Linked DNA regions of Homo sapiens. The protein of the gene in region 2 purifies or fractionates together with the protein of the main gene of each other region. This does not show direct contact. Each region holds a gene or a part of one and is shown on either strand. Other genes may lie near its edges. The genes, in order: GOT2, ACOT7 and PNMA8A.

Region 1 (3,747 bases), on a different chromosome or scaffold from region 2:
ATTTTTTAAAAATTGAACCAGTTGCCAACTTTTAAGCACCAACAGATCAACCATAGAAATCAAGATTTCCATTTTTCTTGAAAAATGTAAGACCTACCACCTTGGGCGTTCATCCTCACAGCTCCTGTCACTTCACTACTGCTCCTCAATGCTGAGGATGAGGGTTGATCACCACTGATCAACTTAAATCCAGTTCACAACACTTTTTTATTTACGTTACCTTCTTGGCTCCTATAGACCACTGAAGTTGTCACTTCTCCTCCACCCCTTCTACCCTTTGCCTATATCCACAGGATCCTTCATGGGACTCCACTTGTTCCCCACAAGGTCCAAGGGATTACACCCACATTCTCAGCATCTTCGGACTGGACAAACTGAATGGCAACATGAAGAAAACGACGAATCTTCAGCCAATATTTGGAATAGTGGATACATCTACTGGCTTATGATCAGCTACACGATTCCAAACTCCTACCCCTTTATTTATTTACCCACTCCTACCCCTTCCTCCCATTAAAGAAAAAAGATAACTTAGTAGACAGTAGTTGGGTCTACAGTAATTTTATTGTAACAGAGAAACCAGGCCGCAATAAGTCTACATGGTTAGAGCAGATGGTGGTTCTTTCCAGTGGGTGAAGCCTGAACCCAGCTAGCAGCACGCAAAGCCTAGAATATCCTCTTTCCTGGTACCACCCTGCGCCGCTGGACTCACAGTGTGAGATGAGAGGCTGCACACCACATTCAACAAAGGGAGGAGGTCCAACCGGGCAGAGACAACATCCCAACTGGAGAAACTTGCACTATCATTCAAGAGGATGCCGAGATAAAGTACAGTTTCCTACTCTCCACTATTCTTTGCTGAAAAGGGTGAGGGTACAGCATCAGCAGAAAATTATGTTCTTCATTCTTAAATAAATCTCGATAGGATGGAGTTGATGGTCAATCAAGCAGTAGAATGGGATGAAAATCTGCAATAGTTAAAAAATCTTTGCGTGTAAGGAAAAGAACGGCAATGACAAGGGAGAAAAGAGAGCCTTCTCTTTTTCTTAAATAAGACAGGAAACTGCATTATTTCCCTTGCTGGAGTGGCAGCAGCCTCATTGGTTTTCATAAAACATCATTTCTGCAGTGCGGCCTGTTGATAAGGTTGTTCCAAGATGGGAGGACAGACACGAGGCCGACTACTCATGACAGAACTAGGCCTTCTCTCAAAGCCTCTAACGTGTGCTGTTTCTCACGAGGAACCTGACACTTCAGTTAAAGCTTCTGAAATATTGCAATGGCATAATTGACAGGTTTTTTGGTGCGATGACTTTCTTGCACATGTAAACTCTTTGAGAAAAGTTGGAGAAAAAAGGACCGGGGAGAGTTTGGTTTAATATTCCAGACGCCAGCCATGGATGCCTCTGCCCTGTGTCACTACATGTTCTTTTCTGAGAAACATTCAAATGCTGAGTGTTACACACTGTGGCTGAAAGAAATGATCCACTCACCACCATCCACCCTCTCTCATTGTCTGTGTGAAGCTCTCAATAGCAGAGGCTGAAGACAGAAAGGTTGTCTCTGTTTCCTCGCACCAGGGACATTACTTGGTGACCTGGTGAATGGCATGGGCAAGGTAGCCCACGTTGCTGGAGGTGACCCCTGCCACAGAGATGCGGCCATCTTTTGTCATGTAGATGGAGAACTCCTTGATCAGCCGCTCCACCTGCAGAGAGGAAAGAACTTGGGTACCTCTTCCCGGTACAGGGGATTCTCCCCGGCCTGACATGGCACAGTAGCCAACTTACCAACGCTCTATTTCCTCGCTTAAAACCTGTTCCCAGAATTTGCTGTTAGCTTGGAATAAAATAAGAATAAAAAGCTACTTTAAGGCTGGGGCGGTGGCTCACACTTGTAATCCCAGCTATTCAGGAGGCTAAGGCAGGAGAATAGCTGGAACCTGGAACCTGGAACCTGGGAGGCAGAGGCTGCAGTGAGCCGAGATTGCGCCAATGCACTCCAGCCTGGGCGACACAGTGAGACTCCATCTCAAAAAAAGAAAAAAAAAAAAGCTACTTTAAAGTAGGATGATGAATTCTGATGCATAAACAGATGGGGAAAAAGACACCTTTAGATTCAGCAGAGCCAGGATTCAATTATGAAACAGCTATTTCTCCTGTTGCTCTCTTGGGAGAAGCAACAGTGATTATGAACATGATCAAAACAAGCTCTGCTCTTTAGAAGTTTGTGAGTTCATGGGGGATACAGAGAGGTAAACAACTAAAAAAAAAAAGCAAAATAAATGCTAAAAAGTATTACAATACTTTTACCTAAAAGGGCTCCAAAATAACTGTTTTAACTGTTTTTAGGGTAATTTTGAACAGGTGGGTGATCTATGAAGAATCCTTCTGGGGCTGGGCTCAGTGGCTCACACCTGTAATCCCAGTAGTTTGGGAGACCAAGGCAGGCGGATCGCTTGAGTCCAGGAGTTCAAGACAAGCCCGGGCAACATGGCGAAACTATGTCTCCACAAAAAATACAAAAATTAGCCAGGTGTGGTGGCACTCACTTCTAGTCCCAGCTGCTCGGGAGGCTGAGGCAGGAGGATCACTTAAGCCCTGGGAGGTGGAGGTTGCAGTGAGCTGAGATTGCACCACTGCACTCCAGCCTGGGTTTCAGAGCGAGACTGTCTCAAAACAAAAACAAAAACAAAAACAAAACAAAACAAAACAAAACAAAACAAAAAACCCGAAAACATTAAATAAAAAAGAAAAAAGAAAAAAAAGTAATCCTTCGGGTTTGCAAAGACTGATCAGCTGGTCTGCTGCAGAGAAATCAGAATCACTCACCTGTTCAGGCTTTAGCCCTGTGAAACAGAACATGCCAATTTGGTCGGTGATGTGTTGCCAATTGTGGGTGGAACCCTCCTTCTTGAGGTTGGAGACCAGTTGAGTCCGCATGCCAATGATGCGGTCAGCCATGACTTTCACTTCTTGCAGCCTGTAAAGAAACCCTGAGATGCAGCTCATTCTGCCTAAGCACTGACCGATATGCTGGAGTTCACTGCATTTTTACCTCCCTTGAGCAGTCCCCTAGTGTGCCTCAATTCTCAGGTCACGAATGAGTGACACGCTGTCACTGGCCAGGGAAGAAAGCTATTTTATAGCATTCTGTTTTATATTGGAACACTATTTCCATAAGGCAACTGAAGCAGTTAACACACTTGAGTAGAGACAGTCCTTGACTTACAACTTTTCAACTTCATGATGGCACAAATGCAATATACATTCAATAGAAACCGTACTTTAAGTACCCATACAGCCATTTTGTTTCTTTCAGTACAGTATTGAATAAATTACATGAGACATTCAGCACTCTGTTATAAAATGGCTTTGTGTTAGATGATTTTGCTTAACTGTAGTTTAATACCTGTTCTGAGCATGTTTAAAGTATGCTAGGGTAAGCTATGATGTTTGGTAGGTTAAGTGTATTAAATGAATTTTCTTTTAATGTAGAGATGGGGTTTTGCCATGTTGCGCGGTTTGGTTACAAACTCCAAGGTTCAAGCAATCCTCCTGCCTAGGCCTCCCAGAGTGCCGGGATTACAGGTGTGAGCCACCACGCCTGGCCCATTTTCTTTTTCTTTTTCTTTTTTTCAGATACAGTCCATCACCCAGTCTCAGTCTATCACCCAGGCTGGATAGTACAATGGTATGATCATGGCTCACTGCAGCCTCAATCTTCCAGGCTCAAGTGATCCTCCTG
Region 2 (3,647 bases):
CACATGGGACCCAGCTGCCAAGGGGTCCTGTGTGACAGGAGACGAGGTGGCCAGAGGTAGACCCAGCACCATAGGCTTTTTTGTTCCTTTTACATTTTGAATCATGAGAATGGGTCGCCTATTTGAAGGATAAATAACATTGAAAAAAATTTTTTTTTTTGAGACGGAGTCTCGCTCTGTCGCCCAGGCTGGAGCGCAGTGGTGCGATCTTGGCTCACTGCAAGCTCCGCCTCCCGGGTTCACGCCATTCTCCTGCCTCAGCCTCCCGAGTAACTGGGACTACAGGCACCCACCACCACACCCGGCTAATTTTTTGTATTTTTAGTAGAGACGGGGTTTCACCATGTTAGCCAGGATGGTCTCGATCTCCTGACCGTGTGATCCACCCGCCTTGGCCTCCCGAAGTGCTGGGATTACAGGCGTGAGCCACCACACCTGGCCACTTTTAAATTTTTAAAAAGAATAGTTGGGCCGGGCACGGTGGCTCACGCCTGTAATCCCAGCACTTTGGGAGGATGAGGCAGGCGGATCATCTGAAGTCAAGAGTTTGAGGCCAACATGGTAAAACCCCGTCTTTACTAAAAATACAGAAATTAGCCAGGCGTGGTGGTGCACATCTGTAATCCCAGCTACTCAGGAGGCTGAGGCAGGAGAATTGCCTGAATCCTGGAGGCGGAGGTTGCAGTGAACCGAGATTGCACCACTGCATTCCAGTCTGGGCAACAGAGTGAGACTCCATCTCAAAAAAAAAAGAATAGTGATTGCAAAGAGCCATGTCACAACACGGGCAGATTATTTTTCCCATACTGAATGAAAAAGAATCAAGGTGAGAGTGTATTTAGTGTTTTGTTGTTGTTGTTGTTTTTGAGATGGAGTCTTGCTCTGTCACCCAGGCTGGAGTGCAGTGGCGCAATCTCAGCTCACTGCAACCTCCCCGTCCCGAGTTCACCTGATTCTCATACCTCAGTCTCCTGAGTAGCTGGGATTACAGATGTGCACCGCCACGCCCGGGTAACTTTTGTATTTTTAGTAGAGATGGAGTTTCACCATGTTGGCCAGGCTGGTCTCGAACTCCTGGCCTCATGTGATCCGCCCACCTCGGCCTCCCAAAGTTCTGGAATTATAGTCATGAGCCACCGCGCCCGGCCTAAAGAAGAATAGTGATTGCAAAGAATGTGTCACAACACAGGCAGATTATTTTTCCTACGTTGAATGAAAAAGAATCAGAAGGTGAGGGTGTATACTTAGTTTTTGCACAGCTATATTAGACTAAAACTGTGAAACGAGCCAGGCAGACGAACAAGTGAGACAACAAAACCCACCCCGATTCTTGGGAAAAAAGCCTGGAAAGACAGATCCCAAAATAGTAACCATGGTTATCTTTGAATGGGAGGAGTGACGTTCCCCTTCTTTCTACTTTTCTGTATTTCCCAAATTTTCCATAATGGGTATGTATGCATTTGTTCACTTTATATTAAGCAAATAATGCATGCCTATTGTGAGAAAATCAGAAGAAAGGAAGAAGCAGCTGGTGATCCCATCACTTGGGGAATCGCCTGCAGCAGTTGCTTTGGGCTGGACTCTGCAGGGCTCCTCTACATCCCTGTGCTTTTGTGTTTAGGAATGCGCGGTGCTAGGCCGGGCGCGGTGGCTCATGCCTGTAATCCCAGCACTTTGGGAGGCCGAGGCGGGCGGATCACGAGGTCAGGAGATTGAGACCATTCTGGCTAACATGGAGAAACCCCGTCTCTACTAAAAATACAAAAAAATTAGCCGGGCATGGTGGCGGGCGCCTGTAGTCCCAGCTACTCGGGAGGCTGAGGCAGGAGAATGGCGTGAATCTGGGAGGCGGCGCTTGCAGTGAGGGGAGATCGCACCACTGCACTCCAGCCTGGGTGACAGAGCGAGACTCCATCTCAAAAACAAAAAACAAAACAAAACAAAAAAACAAAAAATTAGCTGGGCGTGGTGGCTGTAGTCCCAGCTACTCGGAAGGCCCGCTGTAGTCCCAGCGGGCGCCTGTAGTCCTAGCTACTCGGGAGGCTGAGGCAGGAGAATGTCGTGAACCCGGGAGGCTGAGCTTGCAGTGAGCTGAGATCTTGCCACTGCACTCCAGCCTGGGTGACAGAGCGAGACTCCATCTCAAAAAAAAAAAAAAAAAACCGCGGTGCCAATAAATGGTGATACATTGGTTGCTTTCACAGTGGGGAATGAAAGCAAAGGCAAAGACCGTTTCCAGGGGGCATGTCCTGGGTGGGGCTCTCGGGGCTGGGCTGGCTGACCTGGGCTGACAACTGCCTCTGTCTCCACAGGAGCGCTGTGTGGCCGCCCTGGCTCGTGTCGAGCGCACCGACTTCCTGTCTCCCATGTGCATCGGTGAGGTGGCGCATGTCAGCGCGGAGATCACCTACACCTCCAAGCACTCTGTGGAGGTGCAGGTCAACGTGATGTCCGAAAACATCCTCACAGGTACTTCTGGGAGCGACAGTGTTGACTGGAGCAGTAAGGGCCGTGGCTACACAGCTGCTTCCCTCCTGAGGGCAGAGGACGCTCCAGGGCCTGGCCCCTTTTCCACCAATGAGACCTCTCTCACCTCCCACCATGGCCCTGGGAGCAGCTATGTCCATTGCCCTGATTTTGCAGACAGGAAAGGGGCACAGAGGGGTTAGGAAACGAGTTCAGTTACCCAGAGCAGGACTCAACCCTGCTGTCTGGGTCCGGCCTGAGCACATCATGCTGCCTGTCCTGCTGCCCGTGGCCAGCTCATCCATGGCAGGGGCTGGGCGCGGGCTGTGAGGCCGGTACGCACCATCCACCCCTCTGCAGGTCTCCCTGCCCTGCTTGCCCTCCTCAAGCGTAGGGAGGTGTTGGCTCCAGAGAGGACAGTGCTTGCTCCTGGGAGCCCCAGAAACCAGGCTCAGATGGAAGCTCACTGGGTGAACCTTTGCCTCTGCTTTCATCTGAATATTCTCCTCCTTGGCCATGGTAACCATGGAAACCCCCTTCCCCTTCCCACTGGGCGCTGCAGGAGGGGGCGGCTCCAGTGTTCACCAGCTCACGCTTCTTTTTATACCCAGGCTGGGGACGGGAGGTGAGGGGGAAGGCGGGCCTCTTCCCCTGCCCCTGGTCCTCTCCCTGCCACCTCCCAGGTCACCAGTCCTCCCATGCAGAGAGGCTGGGCCGGTTTCCTCCTCTTCCCCATGCCTGTTCCTCAGCAGTGGCTGCCCCGTGGAGTGCCAGCTCACAGCCATTTGAGGGGCTTGAGTCCTCTTCCTCATGACGGGCCGGTAGCAAGCACGATTATGCATCTAGAACATTCTGAGGACCTCAGCAGGGTTGATTAGAATGGCTGTGTCAGCCCAGCTCCGGCAGGTGGGCAGATGGAGCTGAGCAAGGGCCTGGGGTGGAAGGTGGTCTGCGTTCCCATTGCCTGCTGCTCCCTCAGCAGGCACCTCTGACATCAGAGGGACCCTGGATGCTGGTCTCAGGATGTGGCCCAGGAAGGGGTGTATGGGCACCTCCCACAACAGGAGCAGCGCCCACGACTCGGGAGAGGCTCAGGGCTGGGTGGGTTCCCCACTTTAGGGGCCTTGGGGGTTCCCTGCCATCTCCTGTGAGATCGCAGCTCTTCTCCGACTGTGCTGGGG
Region 3 (3,747 bases), on a different chromosome or scaffold from region 2:
GATTACAGGCATGAGCCACCAAGCCTGGGCCCAAACCATTAAATTCTCATCAAGGAAGATGGGTCAGATGGAGTGGCAAATGACCACAGTGACACTCATTGTGGGTTTCCTCTGCCACCTCCTGCCCACCAGATGTCTCCAGCATCGGCCTTCAGGGGCTCCTGGAAGGGCGGTCTGGGCTCTTACCCTCCTCAACTGGTGTGTCATCCACCTCCTGCCATGCACCAGGGTCCTCCTCATCACCCGCTTGACCCACCACCTCCTCGGGCTCCTCTGCCCCACCTGCCACTCCTGCTCCTCCTGCCTCATCCACTTGCTGGCACGAGCCCAGTCACTTCTGCTATCATTCTCACCATTGGTGGCACGCCGAGGAGAGCCTTCTGGCTTGGCCTTCGGACCCCTAGAGGTTGAGGCTGTTGCCTCGGCAGGCTGCTGGCCCCGAGGGGCCTTCTGATCTGATGCCTCCCTTCTTGAGCCTGGCCCTTTCTTTGGCATCACCGGCTTCTTCCTGCCATCTTCTGAGTCAACCAAGACGTAGGAGACAGGGCCCAAGCTCACCTTCTTCTTCTTCCTCATGGGAGCGGGGTTCTTGGCAGACACCCAGGCCACGGCCTTCTTCTTTGGTGGGCTTTCATGGCCACCATCTTGGTCTGACTCAGAGGCGCCTCCTGGGCTCTCGGCTTCTGCCCGGGCATCCTGAGGTGGCTCTCTGGGACCCTTCCAGGCACATTTCGCCATGGGCTTCTTCAAAGCCAACTCCTCCTTATTCACACAGGGCTTTCTGCTGCCCTTGATCGGCTCTGAGATCGCCATGCTTTCAGCATCACCCACCTCAGGATCCTCCAAGTTAGCTGTGCTGTTGGAATTGATGCCTTTGGGTTTTTTCCAGGGCACTGCTTCCTGCCTGGAGTTCTTCTTCTGCTTCTTTCTCCTGGAGCGAGACTTAGCTCCAGCCCTGCGAACCAAAGGTTTGGTAGGCTCATGCTGGTCTTCCGTGGCATTCCAGTTGTTGGGGGTCTCTGCCTTTAAGGCAGAACCCACCTCTGCTGCAAGCCCCGGTTCTTTCTTCACCTTCCTCCCTGCTGCTAAAGCCCAGGCTGCCATCTCCTCGAATTCAGCGGCCTCCTGGGCCCTGGCTTCCTCCCGGCTGCGGATCTCGGCATCCATGCAGAAGATGATCTGCACCACTGCTCCCAGAAGCACCCCCAGAGCTTCTGCCCAGTTCTCTGGGGGCTGATGCTGGTTCTGGGACAGGGTGGGGTGGTTGAGCTGGAGCAGGCGGACCACATCCTCCCAGGTGCGCCCCTCGGCATCCAGGAATTCATTCAGATTTTTTAAAAACTCGGCATCCTGGGTAGGGTCTCTACAGACCACTCTCCAGACACCACCCCTTCCTGGGAATTCACGGGGGATGGTGCTCAGATTCACACCTTCACCAACCTCAATGAGGGCAGCTTTAACATTCTCTTCCCTCACAAAAATCTTGTTGAGCACGCGGTACGGGCCCAGTGGGGAGAGGACCCCATTCAAGGTCTCCTCAATTTCTGCCTGCCCACAGTCCTCTGGGATGCCTGTGACCAACAAGGACCTGTGGATGTCCACTTCCATTCCCCTGCACCAATCCTCCAGAAGGTTCATCGCCATGGTCTTGGACATTTAGCGGCTCTGAACCTACTATGTGTAGTAAATAGTCTATCAGGTGGACGTGGGCTGCAGCGGTCTCCAAACAGTAATCCTGCAAGGTGACAAGGGAGCGAGGTCACGTTCCCAGGAAGATGACCAAGCTCACAGATCCTAGCTGCCCCCTCCGCGGCTGGCCTGCAGGAGGCCTGGCGCTTTCCCAACACCCTCCTCCCCAACCCAGGCCCCGGTGCTCACACGTGTCCCTGAATCTGCAGCAAAAGGCCCTAGGACCCTCCCCCGGGCCTGACGCTCCGCCTGCCCAGCCGGGACTTACTTGGCAGATCAGCCTCCGACCGCCCAGCCAGGCCAAGGAGACGCAGTGGAATGCAGCCGTTTCCCAGTCGCTGGCTCCGGCTACCCCGGCGCCGCTGCTAGAGGCAGAAAGGGCCAAGAAGGCGCCGTCCGCCCCCGCTCCGGCCCAGGCGGGTCACGGGGCGTCCAGACTCGATGCCGTTAGCGGCGAGAAGCCGAGGTTGGCGTCGCAGCGCGCGCCTGCGCACTGGCTCCCGCACCGCCGCTCGGGGGTCTTGGGCTGCGCAGGTGCCGACGTCTCCATGGCAACCGGGCGTGGGTTGCTAGGGCTGAGCCCGGCCGGCGCGCCGGCGCTGCAATTGGACCTAGGGAGCCGGGTGCAAGAGTGGCCTGTTCAGGTCGCAGAGCAAGCGGGTCTGGATACACTCCGGTGGCGCCTCCACGGAGGCCCTCTTTCAACCCAAGTGGGCCTCGCGAACGGGGGTTAGGTCGATGAGAAGCGCCAACACCTATGGCTGCACCCACTGACTGTATTATCCTCTGCCCCACCTGTTGGATTCACCCAACGCAACTCTTGGGAGACACTAGAAATCAAGAAAGGAGGAAAACGAGGCTTTAATCTTCTTGGGTTCCTCCAACAGCAGGTGCAGTTCCTGTTGGGCTTGTAGCCTTCTCTCTTACAAGCTGCTGGGTTCTTCCAGGAATTTCCAGAAACTTCTAGAAATTTCTTAGTCTCCTCCCCGACCCCTTCTAGCATGAGGATAATGCCTCGCCTTTTCTTGTTTCCTCAACGTGATTCAGGGCAGGTTCTTGGCATCCTCCAGGCAGGGGACAATGTTACAGCTCAGTGACTGCCCCTACAGAGAAGTGTTAGTCCAAACTGCAACCATTTTGTAAGCCCTGACTATTTTGCAGATCTTGGTCAAAGTGAAATATTCCACGGGGGTTCGGGCCAATGAGAAACATCCTGCCTAATCACCTGACCACAAGGCGGACAAAGGCCCAGCTAAAGAAACATTATCATACCCTATCGTGCAAAGGCCCAACTGAAGAAACATCCCTATCATATTCTGCTGGGAGAAAGTGCAGAGAACACCACATTCCACCAGAACAAGGGCCAGAACCGCCTCATCATGGAACCATCTTATCAACATCCTGCTGGGCAGCAAACCATACTGCTCAGACCCCTCCCACCCATAACTATAAGTACCCCCAGCCTATAAGCAGCAGTGGGCTCTGGCATTAGGCTGGTTACCCACTTCCACAGGTGTCTGCAGTATACCTGAGTTGCTGTTGAGCCGCCTTCTGTCTGTGTGTCTTTAACCCTCACCTTCCCTCCAAAACCTAACAAGGAGGGCTACCCTCTAGGCAGTGTGCTGAGAATAGCACCTCGGGGCAAGGCTGCAGTCACATTTATACCCACTTTTAATGACGTGCTAATTAAGGGGTGGGTTTTCAGAATTAGCAAATTGGCAGTAACTTATGGGTGTTGCCATGGCAATGGTAAACTGTCATGGTGCTGGCAGGCATGTCTTATGGAGAGAGGCTTTCGGTGCCTTTTCCAGGTTTTGGCCAGTCTTCAATGTGATCCTCAGTGGAGTCCCCTGGGCCTCCTACCTCAACCTTGCTGCCCATGAGCAAGAACTTTGTTAATAGTTTATTAATGCCCAGTGCTGTGGCTCACGCATGTAATCCCAACACTTTGGGAGGCTGAGGAGGGCGGATCACTTGAGCTGGGGAGTTCGAGACCATCCTGGGCAACATGGCAAAACCCCGTCCCTACCAAAAACGCAAAAAATTAGCCAGGTGTGA

What was found.
Region 1: the proteins of ACOT7 (region 2) and GOT2 purify together in Homo sapiens (affinity purification with mass spectrometry, with the first as the bait; one study listed by BioGRID). This does not show direct contact.
Region 3: the proteins of ACOT7 (region 2) and PNMA8A purify together in Homo sapiens (affinity purification with mass spectrometry, with the first as the bait; one study listed by BioGRID). This does not show direct contact.

Annotation. Positions count from the first base shown.
Region 1 is NC_000016.10:58,706,586-58,710,332, forward strand, and holds the end of GOT2 (aspartate aminotransferase, mitochondrial isoform 1 precursor), read right to left. Parts: intron 2,983-3,747; coding exon 2,832-2,982; intron 1,709-2,831; coding exon 1,586-1,708; 3' UTR 546-1,585; downstream 1-545. UniProt on the Homo sapiens protein: Catalyzes the irreversible transamination of the L-tryptophan metabolite L-kynurenine to form kynurenic acid (KA). As a member of the malate-aspartate shuttle, it has a key role in the intracellular NAD(H) redox balance.
Region 2 is NC_000001.11:6,338,255-6,341,901, reverse strand, and holds part of ACOT7 (cytosolic acyl coenzyme A thioester hydrolase), read left to right. Parts: intron 1-2,312; coding exon 2,313-2,469; intron 2,470-3,647. UniProt on the Homo sapiens protein: Catalyzes the hydrolysis of acyl-CoAs into free fatty acids and coenzyme A (CoASH), regulating their respective intracellular levels.
Region 3 is NC_000019.10:46,469,380-46,473,126, forward strand, and holds the start of PNMA8A (paraneoplastic antigen-like protein 8A), read right to left. Parts: upstream 2,185-3,747; 5' UTR 1,958-2,184; intron 1,736-1,957; 5' UTR 1,657-1,735; coding exon 354-1,656; coding exon of another isoform or gene 283-353; intron 1-282.